Linked DNA regions of Homo sapiens. The protein of the gene in region 1 interacts with the protein of each later gene in a biochemical or structural test. Each region holds a gene or a part of one and is shown on either strand. Other genes may lie near its edges.

Region 1 (3,926 bases):
TGATAGTATGCCGTAAAGGAAAGACCATTAGACCAAGATTGACTAATCTAGTTATGAGATTTGAGAACCCAATTATTGACAAAATAATGTAGTGGCAGATTTTTTTTTTTTTTTGAGTTACTGGTTTGTTTATTATTTTTGGGATGGGGTCTCACTGTTACTCAGGTGTCCTTGAATTCCTGGTCTCACACAATCCTCCTGCCTCAGCCTCCCAGGTAGCTGGGACTACAGTAGTGATGGTTTTGAGAAACTTATTTTTTATTTATTTATGTTTTTGAGACGGAGTTTTGCTCTTGTTGCCCAGGCTGGAGTGCAATGGCGCCAGCTCGGCTCACCGCAACCTCTGCCTCCCGGGTTCAAGCGATTCTCCTACCTCAGCCTCCCGAGTAGCTGGGATTACAGGCATACGCCATCACGCCCGGCTAATTTTTTGTATTTTTAGTGGAGACGGGGTTTCTCCGTGGTGGCCAGGCTGTTCTTGAACTCCTGACCTCAGGTGATCCGCCCGCCTCGGCCTCCCAAAGTGCTGGGATTACAGGCAGGAGCCACCGCACCCGCCCGAAACTTATTTTTTTTAATAAGCTGCTACCTATTGAAAATTTTTGTGTGTGAGTTTCTTTTTTAAACAGAGTCTCTCTCTGTCACCCAGGCTGGAGTGCAGTGGCACGATCTCAGCTCATTACAACCTCAACTTCCCGGGTTCAAGTGATTCTTGTGCCTCAGCCTCCCGCATAGCTGGGATTATGGGCATGCGCCATCACACCCAGCTAATTTTTGTATTTTTAGTAGAGACGGCAGTTTGCCATTTTGGCCAGGCTGGTCTTGAACTTCTGGCCTCAAGTGATTCACCGGCCTTGGCCTCCCCAAGTGCTGGAATTACAGGCATAAGCCACAGTGCCTTGCCCCATTGAAATTTTTTAGTAGTATCTATTTAATGTGGAGTGTTTCATAGGGTGTGGCGTATTTTTGTAGTTTTCTCTGTAAATTGGAGGGCAATGAGTAAAGGCTTAATCTTAGTCTCAAGTTTTTAGTGAACAAATTTACAAAGAGAGATGAAGAGACTGGGCAGCAAGTCATGTCCTTTCCCTGCTGCCTTCATGAAAATAGCAACAGAAACAAAGTAAGTTCTTCCATGAAGCTATGGAATTTGTCGTGTTCCTGAGGCTTCCAGCCACCAAAATTAAGCCTCTTAAGGACTCAAAAGGAGCTAGTGGCCAGTGTCTCTTATATGCTTCTTCCTTTCTCCAGTCTTCTGACCTGTTCAGCGAGGTAGCCACTTGAAACTGTCCATCTGGCCATGGATCTCCTTAGAGGAGGCTTGCCCCTTCCCCATCACCAGTCATCCTTTGAATAAAATTTTGTAACAAAGCCAAATGCCAGCAGCCACTTAAACCTTCATGAGCACTGGCTAGACGTGGTGGGTCCTTCTGGTCTCCACCTGTCATGGTTGGGCAGAACAGCCCCCTGCGAGGTAAGGGAGCAGGACTGCTGTCTGTCAGTTCAAGTTCAGCCTTCGTTTCGGAGGCAAAGCGTTTATGCTTTAGCTTTCTTGTGCTTTTTCATCTCTTTTGCATTGTCTTTTGTTTTAAGTTGCCATGACATTCAGGGTTTCACCAGGTTTGAGATATAGTGCCTCTAAATTAGGGCTGTCTGTGATCACCCTGCTTTTATGAAGCTGTGTGTGTGAAACATCCCTGATGACAGGTCCCTCGGGAATTGGCTTTGCAGTTTATTTTTGGCTCCTACGCTGGCCAGCATTTCCATGGGGAAAGCTATTTAGGTGTAGCATCATGGCACGTGAAGTTTGTCTCACTTGTCTGGGTGCTGGGCCCATTAAAAGCAATTGTTCTTAGTGATGTAATGTGAAGAAGTTATATAAGGTTAACCAAGATGCAGGACTAAGTGAATCTAAATTGCGTTTTATTCAGATAGGATCACAGCACTTGTAGACTCTTAACAGCTGTTCTGTGATTTTATTCTTTGTCCCTTGATTTTTCCCCTTCTAGCCCTCGGGCCTCAGTGCCCTGATGGTGCTTCTGTCTGGCTGCTGCCTGACTCAAGGGTACTTTCCCCAGATGAAGGGTGTGTGTTTTGTACTGTGATTGGAAGCCAAAACCCTTGGGTGCTCTTCCTGGCTGTCACCTACTCTGAATGACCTTGACCAAGTCACTGCCTCATTTTCTCCCTCTGCAATGAAATAAGAGGTCTATCTTCCTAACCCCGATATGATCCTGCTCGGATGGAATAACCAGAAGTGTAGCTGGGTCAAGCCTAGGATGGCCACTTGGTTATTAGCAGACAGCATTCTGATGTCTGTCAGAGAGAGCCAGCCCTGTGCCTTCAGAAGATCACTTCCATGAGAAAGAGGGTGATGCTGCACCAAAGAGGCACCTTGGGAAGCAAAAGGTGCACGAGGCGGGTTGTGGGGAAGGTGGTTGTTTCAGGGGCATAGGAATTCCTAATGGCTCGTGTTGCTAGTGACCAGATGGATTATAGGTTTGACTTTATTAAACCTCTTCTAGAAATACTCATGAACTTCCTACCTCTGTTACTTTGTGAGAAATTCAGTAATGCACATTTAAAGTAACCCCGGCCGTCCTCCAGGAGGGGGATGGAATGAATCTGTATGTATGTATGTATGTTTCCAGAGTCTGAAAGGTCTCTTGAAATTCTCAAGACTGGTAATGAGATTATAAATTACAAAGATGATAGAGTATTGCTTTATATTTTAAGGTAATAAGAGCAGTCATGATCCAGGATACTGTTACTGTGTGCCAGGCACTCTTAGTGCTTTAGATGTTTTACTTCACGCTCACAACAACCCTGTGGTGCTATTATTAGCCCCATATTCCAGAGAAGGAAGCTGAGGAACAGAGAGGTTAAGTAAATTGCCCAGTGTCACACTTCTAAGTGGAGGAATCTGAATACAAATTGAACTAAATGTACTTTGTTCTCACCTGAGAATACTTAAGTTCAGGATTCAGAGATCATTACTATACGTGACCGAGTGCCCTGATCCAACATGAATCACAAGCCTTGTGGTTGGCATTAATCATCCCTTCTTTAAACAGTTGAAAGTCTTAGTGTAATAGGAGGTACTACAAGTGAGGAAGGAGAGAGGCACAGGATGTTGGGATAGGTGGAAGTTGTGCCAGTGGGCAGGCAGGAGGGAGGGAGATGATGGGTAGGGAGCAGGACGGGAGGAACACTGCATTCGCACTGGCGGTGTGCTTCTGCAGATTCCACTCTTTTCATTCCCTGACCCCTCAGTCATTCTCAAAATAACTGTCAAAAACACATTGCATTTCTAGAGAACCTTTGACTGCCCCTCAATGTTGAATGAAGCAACCTCTGTAGTCTGATTCATTCCAACACTGAACTGCAGTTCAGTTTTATTCCCCAACTCCACCTCCTAGAGCAAAACAAGTGTGCAGACACTCCACGTAACTGGCATTTCTGTGTTGCCTCAGAAGTGGTCAGCTCCATTAGGAGCTCCAACTTGACCTCCTGTCCGCTCTGCTGCTGTCATCCTTCGGCTGGGAATGCTGAGTCATGAGACAGGTTCAGGAAGGATTCCTTGGAGAGGCTGAGTTCCACCTCAATTTCAGTTTCTGTTCCCTTCAGTTTCCGTGTGTTTTTGCTTTAGGACATTAGAGGCCTCTTTGCACCTTCCCCATCTCTACTTCACTTTTATCCCTGTTTCTCTCTGTTTTGTTTGTTTGGTTTTTTTTTTTGTTTGTTTTTGTTTTTTCATTTTCCTGTTATACTAAGAGGAACTTTTTCTATTTTTTACTACTTAACCCACCATGGGGGCTCATGGAATCCAGTGGAACCTGTTGGGGGCCAGCACTTTTTAAAAGGGTGCAATTGTCGTGTATAACATGAATTGCCAGCACAACAGTCCTGGGCACGTGATCAGTGTCAGC
Region 2 (3,926 bases), on another chromosome or scaffold:
CGAAACCTTTTCTAAGCAAGGTGTGTGCAGGAAGACCTTGGACAATAAACAAGGTGTTTCAAATACCAGCTCTGCTTCAGGTTCCTGGGTGACCTTGAGTAAGTCATTTCACTTCTCTGGACTTCATTCCTTGGCTGTGAAATGAGTACATGTGTATATGGTTAAGAGCACAGGCTCTGGAATCAGAGGCCTAAGTTCAAAACTCAGCTCCGCGACTTACTAGCTATATATCCTTTGGGCAAATTACCTGGCATCCCTGCTCCTCAGTTCCCTCCTCCGTAAAAGAGGGTAATAAAATTGCATCCATCAGAAGGTTGTTGTGAAGATCAGGGGAGATAATGAATGCATAGCCCCATACTTGGAATATAGTCAGTGTTCAATAAATTGTAGCCATTATTGATATTATGCCATACAATTAGTTGCTGCTGCTGCACGCCAGCACCCTCTTCATTTTCCTCAGTTTCACCTCTAGACTTTTGCCCAGGCATCTCCAGATGAATCCCCATTTCTGGATGTGTCAGTGGGAGACTGTTTCCATCAGAGATGAGAGATGGATGAGCAGCTACTGTTTTGCCTTGGTAGCTAATGGAGCCTCCTTTTTGCTCCCAAACCAGGAATGGCTCAATTCAACTTCTCTAACTTCCAAGGCCCTGTCCCCTTTCCCTGGATCTCCTTTCCAGGACACACAGTCCTTGGGAGCTCCGTGATTCTGAAAGCCGTAACAATATCCTCAAAAAAGCCTTCTTCTGGTATTTACCAGTCAGCAGAGATCATATTTAAAACTGGAAAAAATAAGTTGAATCTGGGGAACATAATTTGGGATGCAGAGGAAATAGGGCCTGATTTAAGAATGCTCTTCACATAACTCCACTAAAGACAAATACCCTACTCCACCCCCACCATACTTCAACCTACAGAGTTTTCAGAAAGAAGCATCTGCACATAGTAGACATTCAATGTACATTTGAAGAATGTATGAATTCATAAGATTGCTGCCATGCAAAAACGTGACCAGCTTGAACATTAGTTGCCATCAAAGCCCTCGATTTCAGCAGAAGTCACTCTAGTCTCCTTCTTTCTTATTTGTTTCTCAGGGTCACAGCTGTTCACAGGATGCAGTCTCAGCTCTTCAGGTCTGAACTATCATCTTCTTGCAGGGATTGGTCTCACCACCCAAGGGAGTTGGAGATCAGTATTTCTGACTCGTCTCCAAATCTTCGGAAAGGCTGTCACGTGTCCCCTGGCCTCCAAACCTGATCCTCGTGCCATAGCTAGCAGTAAATGACAAATCTAACCAATCAAAACATTTATATTAAGGATCTACTACTGTATGCCCAGTGGTGTGCTATATGCAATGGGTAACATGCATTGAATACTGTAAGTGATCTTTTCTCTTAAGTTACTAATAAACTCCTTGTAAAGGTAAAGCTAACACACAGGAAGCAAGTAGAGAAGTGCATGGTACTGATTATCAAAGCTCAGAGAAGTTGCTATTTATTGAGCACCTATTATATCTCAGGTACGTTAAATATTTAAGTGCAGTGCCTCATTGAGTTGTTTGACAATGATATGAGGGTCATACTATTGTTATCCCCATTTTGCAAAAAGGAAATGGAACCTCAGGCTAAGTAAGTTGTGTCCAAAGTCACAAAGCCAGTAAGCAGTAGAGTAGCAAGCTGGGCCCTGCTCCATGTGACTGCAAAGGTTTCATTCTCTCAAGTACAATGACTTAACAAATAGAGCCAAATGGGCTGAAATAGCTAGGGGAAGCTTCCTGGAGGAGGTGGAAACTGATCTAAGTCTTGAAGAGAAGGTAGGATACAGATATCCCTAGGGGAGTAAGAGAATGAAAGCATTCTAGACAGTGGAAGAGTCTAAGTCGAGCACAGAGGTTCGACTGTGAAGCCTGCTTGCTGGTGGATCTGCTGTACAGACACAGAGGTTTCAGGGCAAGGAAGAGGAGATTAAGTCAGAAGGCAGGGTGGGGCCAAATGACACCACACAACAGCAGCTTCCTCTACCAGGAGGAACAGGCTGTTTCTTGGGCTGTCCGTGCCCCTAGGAAAGCACCCCACCCTCAAACCCAGGTGATCCACTCCAAGGAGCCTTATGGCTTTCTACTCTCATCTGATCGTCCTTCCCTATCTTAAGTGTTGCCTCCAAAGCAACCTCCTCCAGACACTAGGAAGCCCATTTCTCTCCTCCAGACCTTACCTGCTCTCACAGCTTGTTTCACTTACCTGCCAGTCGGCTCTTATGCACATAACATCCCTTTATGGATCTGTTCTTCTCTTTTAGTTTTAACCTTTTCCAAGATCTTTTTCTACTTATTAGTCAGTCCTTAATTCCCACCCTTCCACTGGACTCAAAATGCATATAGGTGATGATGTCAGAGATTATTTACATATAATTTCTGAATTTGTGGTAATAGGATCACAGCCTTCATGATTAATATTTCTGGAGGCCTTCAATTTGTGATCCGTAGAGATTCACATCAGTTGGAGTTTTGGGAGAATGTACCTGCCTTTCCTAGGGAATCCCCCCTGCCTTGCACACAGCAGACAGTCAACAATGTGACTTAATTTGAACCCCTCCTCCAAGAAAACTCAACCTCTCCACTGGAAGTAATTCAGCCATGTGGCCACAACTTGGTGAACACTACCAGTACGGAAACCTCAACAAGGGAACGAAAAGCAGTTCTGGCTACGATGGAAAATAAGGCAAGCTCCTGCCAAGTAAGTACTTCGCAAACAGCAGTAAAAACGGAACGTGTTAACTCGTGACCAGGGTCCACCATGCATCTCAGAAAGGTCTCACCGAACCCGAAATGGAGAATCGGGGCCCGACACTCATCTCCGGACAGAAGAGCGTCCCTTTAAGAAGAGACTGGACCAGCTGGCCGCACTACAGCTCCCAGAGATTTCCTGGCTTGCAGCCTGGCTCCACCCCCCACCCAGCCTCCGGCCCCAGCAACGCGTGACGTCAGAAGAGGCTGGAGCTGCCGATTGGCTGAACGACGCAGCTAGGTCAAGTCCAGTCGGAGGAAAGAAGTTTGTCTCCATGTGGAAACCATGTGTCTCTAGCTGGGAGGGGGAGGAGGAGAAGGCGGAGAAACCGAGATCAAGTGATTATAGGGGAACTCGCTGAAATGAAGGCGGGGAGGTTGTGCACCTGAGTCGGCCAACGATGCCCTTTTGCAGTAGTGACCGAAAAAAAAAAAAAAAAAGACGTACACAACAAACTACCCAACCCCACCCCCAATAATAACTACTAAAAAGCTAGGGTCCCTGCTTCCTTCCAGAAACCAGGGACCCGGTAGATGCTGGAATCCTATCGGAACGCCCAGATCCCTCTCCCTCCCCCAACGACTGAATGATGTAAGCGTTTCGGAAAGCAGAGCTCTGGAGCAAAACAAGCCCCGCGCGCGCCGAGCGACCCGCAGTGCCCGAGCCGGGCGCACGCACGACCCGCCCCCCGACTCGCGTTATTGCTGTGCACACGCGGATTGCCGTGACGCGCGGGCATTGTGTGCAGCGAGCAGAAAACAACGACGAGCGCCGCCAGCGCGAAGAAGCGCCCCCCATAAAACGAGGCAGATGTAGGGCCCGCCGTTTTCCGTACCCAGAGACCTAGACCGGGCAGGAGGAGGGGAGGAGAGGGGGTGGGATAAAGTGGCCCCCGTGGACCGCTTCTCTTTGCAAGGGGGATAACAGAGGGCCTGGCGGATGGTCGCACGGAGTTTGCCGGAGGTCACCCCAGCCTGTTCGAGCTGTTGGGGACGGGGCGAGGGCCTGGAGCGGGGTCTCTGCAGCCAAACTGGGCACGGCGCGGCGCCCCAAGCTCTCGGGGAAATCTGGGGGCCGTTGGCATCACGTCATTTAGAGCCAAACAGCAGCGGCGAAAAGAAGCAAGAGAGCTAAAAATAC
Region 3 (3,351 bases), on another chromosome or scaffold:
CAGAGCGAGACTCCATCTCAAAAAAATAAAATAAAATAAAATAAAATATATATATATATATACACACACACACACACACACACACACACACTCTTCATACATATTTGTGTTTATATATGCTTATATATATTAAATATCACAATAGGAAAGTTTCTTACCCTTTCATTTAGAATTGCTTTAATAGTTCATTAAGTTTTAATGTATTGCTCAATAATTTTGATTGAATATATTTTACGATACATGATATAATAATGATATATTTATGATATGATAAAATATTTATGATATTTTAGAGAAACAAGTGGTTTTATAATGTCACACCATATAACATATTATTTACATCATAAATATACAACCATGCAATATGTGCTGAAAATGGCACAAACCTAAGTGGAAAGTATGAAGATAAAAGTGTTGTAAGTTTTCTCCTTTATTTTCCACAGATCTGTAATTTATGATCTTTAAAACAAGCCAGAAAGGATTAGGAAAACAGGAGATTTTGCATGTCGGCAAGTTATCTTAAAACAAATGCCTATTCCTATATATTCATAAATATTTTAAATTAGTGAAAGTTCTCATGCCAGGTTTCTAATAATAAAAGTGAGACAGCACCGAACCAATTACTTGGAAAATTTGGCAGGAAAAATCAATTAACAAGATAATTGGTAAGAGTGAGTAATGGAGCACCTTCAACGCTAGGTGGGATTCAAGCAAAGAAACTGCGTTTGCCGGGGTTTTCCAGGAAATTTGGACAGAAACAGTTCTCTGTACATCCTCATACAAATCACTTCCTCCTCCCTTCAGTTCCCCCACAGCGACTGAAGCAGGGCTGTGTGCACTCCAGAAACTCATGGAGTCTATGTTTAACAAGTGAGGGAGGTGAATAATTCCAAAATAAGTTCCAAGATAAGGGACTTTTCCTCTTATGCTGAAAATAACCTGTTCTGTGAATGACAGGACATTGGAATCACACAGACCTTGGTGAGATCATTGTCTTCACCATTTAAAAGTGCTTCACCTTGGGGAAATTCTATAGCAGAGTGATGCTCTTATCTCAAAGTGCTTTGGGAAGCAAATGAGATAATATACATAGAACACCTAGCATTATTAATTACTTCCTTTCTATCCCTCTCATCTTAATTAAAATTTTGGATAGCATTAAGGAACATATTCCCTATTAAAAATAATATGCTGGCTGGGTGCGGTAGCTCACGCCTGTAATCCCAGCACTTTGGGAGGCCGAGGCGGGAGGATGACTTGAGGTCAGGAGTTTGAGACCAGCCTGGCCAACATGGCAAAACCCTGTCTCTACGAAAAATTCAAAAATTAGCTGGGCATGTTGGTGGGCGCCTGTAATCCCAGCTACTCGGGAGGCTGAGGCCAGAGAATCACTTGAACCTGGGAGGTGGGGGTTGCAGTGAGCCAAGATCTCGCCACTGCACTCCAGCCTGGACGACAAGAGCAAAACTCCATCTCAAAAAAAAAAATAGAAATAATAATAATTACAATATGCTATCCCAGTTCCTGTTTTATGAATTTGGCCAAGCCAAGTAAGTGGCACTATAGAAAGAGCAAAAATAAATCAAAATATATTTAAATTATTATACATTATATTAGGTTATATCATCAAATTTTATCAATATATTTAAATATAAATATATTTATATATATTTTAAATATAAATATATAAAAATATATTTATATATATTTTAAATATAAATATATAAAAATATATTTATATATATTTTAAATATAAATATATAAAATATATTTATATATATTTTAAATATAAATATATAAAATATATTTATATATATTTTAAATATAAATATATAAAATATATTTATATATATTTTAAATATAAATATATAAAATATATTTATATATATTTTAAATATAAATATATAAAATATATTTATATATATTTTAAATATAAATATATAAAAATATATATATTTTAAATATAAATATATAAAAATATATATATTTTAAATATAAATATATAAAAATATATATATTTTAAATATAAATATATAAAAATATATATATTTTAAATATAAATATATAAAAATATATATATTTTAAATATAAATATATAAAAATATATATATTTTAAATATAAATATATAAAAATATATATATTTTAAATATAAATATATAAAAATATATATATTTTAAATATAAATATATAAAAATATATATATTTTAAATATAAATATATAAAAATATATTTATATATTTTAAATATAAATATATTAATATTTGAATATATTTAAATGAGGAATTGACCCCTATCTATGAAACATGAAGTGTTTGTCTCTAAATCCCCTTTCAGGAGAATAAAGTCAGATTTACAAATAAAATTTGTTCCCGACAAAAGTGACATGCTTCAATTTCATTCATTTCTTAATGAATATCATCACTTTAGAGCTGCCCTATTGTGCTTTATGAAGTTTTTCCCCTCAGTTAAGTTTCTCTCTGCCCTTGTATTGCTTGTGATTATTCGCTCAGAAAGTGATGTCTAGGCTAGCGTGCTGGTTTGGGAATGCGTGTTTTCCAGGTACTTGCTGCGAACCCACCACACCTTTGTTTTCTGCCCCCAACAGGAGGCTGCATGCACATGAAGTGTCCGCAGCCCCAGTGCAGGCTCGAGTGGTGCTGGAACTGTGGCTGCGAGTGGAACCGCGTCTGCATGGGGGACCACTGGTTCGACGTGTAGCCAGGGCGGCCGGGCGCCCCATCGCCACATCCTGGGGGAGCATACCCAGTGTCTACCTTCATTTTCTAATTCTCTTTTCAAACACACACACACACGCGCGCGCGCGCACACACACTCTTCAAGTTTTTTTCAAAGTCCAACTACAGCCAAATTGCAGAAGAAACTCCTGGATCCCTTTCACTATGTCCATGAAAAACAGCAGAGTAAAATTACAGAAGAAGCTCCTGAATCCCTTTCAGTTTGTCCACACAAGACAGCAGAGCCATCTGCGACACCACCAACAGGCGTTCTCAGCCTCCGGATGACACAAATACCAGAGCACAGATTCAAGTGCAATCCATGTATCTGTATGGGTCATTCTCACCTGAATTCGAGACAGGCAGAATCAGTAGCTGGAGAGAGAGTTCTCACATTTAATATCCTGCCTTTTACCTTCAGTAAACACCATGAAGATGCCATTGACAAGGTGTTTCTCTGTAAAATGAACTGCAGTGGGTTCTCCAAACTAGATTCATGGCTTTAACAGTAATGTTCTTATTTAAATTTTCAGAAAGCATCTATTCCCAAAGAACCCCAGGCAATAGTCAAAAACATTTGTTTATCCTTAAGAATTCCATCTATATAAATCGCAT
Region 4 (4,472 bases), on another chromosome or scaffold:
CCCTGGGAGCTTCAAGGTGTCTGTGGCCTCAGTCCCAGTCTTGGCAGCAGGTCAAAGGCAGCCCAGCTCCACAGGCACCACAGCCACCCCTACGGGAAATGTGCTGGGAAAGGAGCCATCCCTACTTCAGTCTGTCTGCTCTGGGGCTCCTGGGCCAAGGCCCACAGGTGGCTCTAAACCCTTAGCCCTAGGACCCAGGACCTGGTTCTCCTCTCCCCTGAGGGACTAGGATGGACATGGCAGCAGCTCTGGGATGACTTGGGGAAGGGCCAGGGCTGGGCTGGCGTATGACGGCTGTCGCTCCTGCATTTGCAGGTGTCTGGCCTGCCACCGTGTCTCAAGGCGGCCTGCATACACTCGGGCATGACCAGGAAGCAACGGGAATCTGTCCTGCAGAAGGTGGGGGCCTCATGGGCCTAGGGGTGAGGGAGGCAGCGGGCGGGCACCTGGGCTGTGCCTCTGATCTTGCTGCCTTCAGATTCGGGCAGCCCAGGTACACGTGCTGATGCTGACACCTGAGGCACTGGTGGGGGCGGGAGGCCTCCCTCCAGCCGCACAGCTGCCTCCAGTTGCTTTTGCCTGCATTGATGAGGCCCACTGCCTCTCCCAGTGGTCCCACAACTTCCGGCCCTGCTACCTGCGCGTCTGCAAGGTGAGCCATATGTGAACTGGGGTGGGCGGCCAGGGCCGGGATGGGCTGGGCGGCCTCACACCACTGCCGCCTCTGGTGCAGGTGCTTCGGGAGCGCATGGGCGTGCACTGCTTCCTGGGCCTCACAGCCACAGCCACACGCCGCACTGCCAGTGACGTGGCACAGCACCTGGCTGTGGCTGAAGAGCCTGACCTCCACGGGCCAGCCCCAGTTCCCACCAACCTGCACCTTTCCGTGTCCATGGACAGGGACACAGACCAGGTGGGTGTGTGTGCTCTGGGGACCCTGCAGGGCCCTGGCTGCTGACTGCCCACGCCGACCCCTCCTCACTCCCCACCGCCCACGCCGACCCCTTCTCACTCCCCACCGCCCACGCCGACCCCTCCTCACTCCCCACGCCGACCCCTCCTCACTCCCCACTGCACACGCCGACCCCTCCTCACTCCCCACTGCCCACGCCAACCGCTCCTCATCAGGCACTGTTGACGCTGCTGCAAGGCAAACGTTTTCAAAACCTCGATTCCATTATCATTTACTGCAACCGGCGCGAGGACACAGAGCGGATCGCTGCGCTCCTCCGAACCTGCCTGCACGCAGCCTGGGTCCCAGGGTCTGGAGGTGCGGCATGGACAGAGCTGGTGTCCCCGTGGACCCACCTTGGGCACACATGGTCCCATCCCACTGACCATCTGCCTGTCTTCCCCAAAGGTCGTGCCCCCAAAACCACAGCCGAGGCCTACCACGCGGGCATGTGCAGCCGGGAACGGCGGCGGGTACAGCGAGCCTTCATGCAGGGCCAGTTGCGGGTGGTGGTGGCCACGGTGGCCTTTGGGATGGGGCTGGACCGGCCAGATGTGCGGGCTGTGCTGCATCTGGGGCTGCCCCCAAGCTTCGAGAGCTACGTGCAGGCCGTGGGCCGGGCCGGGCGTGACGGGCAGCCTGCCCACTGCCACCTCTTCCTGCAGCCCCAGGTTGGCACCCCCCCCCCCCACACTGCCAGTGCTCGAGCCCCCAGTGGTCCACCCCACCCTCATGAAAGTTGCCCTGCAGGGCGAAGACCTGCGAGAGCTGCGCAGACATGTGCACGCCGACAGCACGGACTTCCTGGCTGTGAAGAGGCTGGTACAGCGCGTGTTCCCAGCCTGCACCTGCACCTGCACCAGGCCGCCCTCGGAGCAGGAAGGGGCCGTGGGTGGGGAGAGGCCTGTGCCCAAGTACCCCCCTCAAGAGGCTGAGCAGCTTAGCCACCAAGCAGCCCCAGGACCCAGAAGGGTCTGCATGGGCCATGAGCGGGCACTCCCAATACAGCTTACCGTACAGGCTTTGGACATGCCGGAGGAGGGTGAGGAACCTGGGGTAAGCCACAGGGGTGTGGAGGGGCTGTCCCCGCGTCCGCTGAGCCCTGCTCTGCCCCCAGCCATCGAGACTTTGCTGTGCTACCTGGAGCTGCACCCACACCACTGGCTGGAGCTGCTGGCGACCACCTATACCCATTGCCGTCTGAACTGCCCTGGGGGCCCTGCCCAGCTCCAGGCCCTGGCCCACAGGTAAGCACGCCCTGCCCAGTTGGAGACGAGGTTGGAGAATCAGGGCTGTTGGCCACATGTCCCTTTTTCCCTGGGCACAGGTGTCCCCCTTTGGCTGTGTGCTTGGCCCAGCAGCTGCCTGAGGACCCAGGGCAAGGCAGCAGCTCCGTGGAGTTTGACATGGTCAAGCTGGTGGACTCCATGGGCTGGGAGCTGGCCTCTGTGCGGCGGGCTCTCTGCCAGCTGCAGTGGGACCACGAGCCCAGGACAGGTGCGCCTCTCCCCACCCCACACCGCCCTGGACGCTGCCTGCCTGCATCTGACATGCTTTCCGGCAGGTGTGCGGCGTGGGACAGGGGTGCTTGTGGAGTTCAGTGAGCTGGCCTTCCACCTTCGCAGCCCGGGGGACTTGACCGCTGAGGAGAAGGACCAGATATGTGACTTCCTCTATGGCCGTGTGCAGGCCCGGGAGCGCCAGGCCCTGGCCCGTCTGCGCAGAACCTTCCAGGCCTTTCACAGGTTGGGAGGAGGCGGGCGGGGCCTGGGACCATCCACCCTCCCGCAGTGATCAGCTCTGACAGGCTCCTCCCCACAGCGTAGCCTTCCCCAGCTGCGGGCCCTGCCTGGAGCAGCAGGATGAGGAGCGCAGCACCAGGCTCAAGGACCTGCTCGGCCGCTACTTTGAGGAAGAGGAAGGGCAGGAGCCGGGAGGCATGGAGGACGCACAGGGCCCCGAGCCAGGGCAGGCCAGAGTGAGTGCAGTAAGGCCAGGCAGCTCATCGGGGTTGCAGGTTCCCTGGGCTGCATGGGGCTTGCTCTGTGGATGCAGTGCCACGGGAGCTCAGAGGAAGCCTGATGTGCCTGTCCACACAGCTCCAGGATTGGGAGGACCAGGTCCGCTGCGACATCCGCCAGTTCCTGTCCCTGAGGCCAGAGGAGAAGTTCTCCAGCAGGGCTGTGGCCCGCATCTTCCACGGCATCGGTGAGGCCTGGGAGGCCCCACCCGCTGCAGGCTGGGGCTGGGGGCTGGGGCAGGTGAGGCCTGGGAGGCTCCACCCGCTGCAGGCTGGGGCTGGGGCTCACGGCTGTGTCTTGGCTCCACCGTAGGAAGCCCCTGCTACCCGGCCCAGGTGTACGGGCAGGACCGACGCTTCTGGAGAAAATACCTGCACCTGAGCTTCCATGCCCTGGTGGGCCTGGCCACGGAAGAGCTCCTGCAGGTGGCCCGCTGACTGCACTGCATTGGGGGATGTCGGGTAGAGCTGGGGTTGTCAGAGGCTAGGGCAGTGACTGAGGACCTGGGCAAAACCTGCCACAGGGTGTGGGAACGAGGAGGCTCCAAAATGCAGAATAAAAAATGCTCACTTTGTTTTTATGGGCCCTCTTGGCCAATGAGGCAACCCCCACAAGCTGGGGACAAGCACATCACATATTCCAGGCACAGAGACATCTGGGCCACAGGCACATGTGGCTTTATTGACCACTCCAGCCACTCAGCTCAGAGAAAGGTGCTGGGTGCTAGGTCCAGGTACAGAACGGGAAAGGCAGAGAGGATGAGCAGGAGCAAGAAGCAGGGATGTGGCCCCAACCCATCAGCCAGGCCTCCGGCCAGAGTGCCCAGCAGCAGCTTCCCCAGCAGCTCCAGCGTGGCCAGAAGGCTGTAGTGTGTGGCCTGAGGGGGGTGGGGGTCACGGTCAAGGTCAGGCCCACACAGCCCCAGCCCCGTGGTCTCTCTTGTGTCCCTGCTACATCTACTCACCTGCAGGGCCCTGGGGGCCAGCTGGCTGCAGCGCATCATCCCAGTGAAGGTGACTGTGGTGACCAGGCCTCCCAAGAAGTGCTGCAGACATAGGCTCAGCAAGGCTGACCCTGGGAGGGCAGAAGTCAGCAGTGCCCCAGGCTCCTGGCCCCTCTCTTCCTCCTCAAGGCCAGCCCCTCACCTCTCAAGATTGTGCCAGCGTCCATGCTGGCCCCCAGGGTGTCCAGGTGGAAGACCAAGGCAGTCTGACAGGCTAGGCCCCCGAGGCGGAAGCGCAGCACCGACCTCAACAGAGGCAGCAGTTTCCTGGGATGGGGGTGGGAAATGGGTCAGTATAGTGGATTGGGGGCAGCTCAGGTACAAGTGGGTGGGCAGGGTACACTGGGGAGGGCTCACCAGTGCTTGGCCAGCAAGGTCCCACCCAGGGAGGAGCCAGCGATGGAGCAGACCACAGCACCCACACCATTCCACAGTCCCAACTCGGGAGCAGAAACGCCGTGGTCCAGCAGGAGAAGAGGAAACAGGCTGCTGGCAC

What was found.
Region 2: the proteins of UBE2O (region 1) and MXI1 form a complex in vitro, tested with the Homo sapiens proteins (one study listed by BioGRID).
Region 3: the proteins of UBE2O (region 1) and PRKN form a complex in vitro, tested with the Homo sapiens proteins (one study listed by BioGRID).
Region 4: the proteins of UBE2O (region 1) and RECQL4 form a complex in vitro, tested with the Homo sapiens proteins (one study listed by BioGRID).

The regions. Positions count from the first base shown.
Region 1 is NC_000017.11:76,446,271-76,450,196, reverse strand, and holds part of UBE2O ((E3-independent) E2 ubiquitin-conjugating enzyme), read left to right. Parts: intron 1-3,926. UniProt on the Homo sapiens protein: E2/E3 hybrid ubiquitin-protein ligase that displays both E2 and E3 ligase activities and mediates monoubiquitination of target proteins. Negatively regulates TRAF6-mediated NF-kappa-B activation independently of its E2 activity.
Region 2 is NC_000010.11:110,210,374-110,214,299, reverse strand, and holds part of MXI1 (max-interacting protein 1), read right to left. Parts: intron 1,433-3,926; exon of another isoform or gene 1-1,432. UniProt on the Homo sapiens protein: Transcriptional repressor. MXI1 binds with MAX to form a sequence-specific DNA-binding protein complex which recognizes the core sequence 5'-CAC[GA]TG-3'. MXI1 thus antagonizes MYC transcriptional activity by competing for MAX.
Region 3 is NC_000006.12:161,349,467-161,352,817, reverse strand, and holds part of PRKN (E3 ubiquitin-protein ligase parkin), read left to right. Parts: intron 1-2,606; coding exon 2,607-2,719; 3' UTR 2,720-3,351. UniProt on the Homo sapiens protein: Functions within a multiprotein E3 ubiquitin ligase complex, catalyzing the covalent attachment of ubiquitin moieties onto substrate proteins. Substrates include SYT11 and VDAC1.
Region 4 is NC_000008.11:144,510,369-144,514,840, reverse strand, and holds the end of RECQL4 (ATP-dependent DNA helicase Q4), read left to right. Parts: intron 1-315; coding exon 316-399; intron 400-478; coding exon 479-652; intron 653-733; coding exon 734-913; intron 914-1,128; coding exon 1,129-1,270; intron 1,271-1,360; coding exon 1,361-1,623; intron 1,624-1,702; coding exon 1,703-1,994; coding exon of another isoform or gene 1,995-2,069; coding exon 2,070-2,199; intron 2,200-2,279; coding exon 2,280-2,449; intron 2,450-2,516; coding exon 2,517-2,697; intron 2,698-2,773; coding exon 2,774-2,930; coding exon of another isoform or gene 2,931-2,939; intron 2,940-3,051; coding exon 3,052-3,160; intron 3,161-3,285; coding exon 3,286-3,410; 3' UTR 3,411-3,553; downstream 3,554-4,472. Other genes in the region: SLC33A2 (major facilitator superfamily domain-containing protein 3), read right to left, coding at 3,677-4,047, 4,119-4,243, 4,334-4,472. UniProt on the Homo sapiens protein: An ATP-dependent DNA helicase which unwinds dsDNA with a 3'-overhang in a 3'-5' direction. Does not unwind more than 18 bp of dsDNA. May modulate chromosome segregation. The N-terminal domain (residues 1-54) binds DNA Y-shaped DNA better than ss- or dsDNA.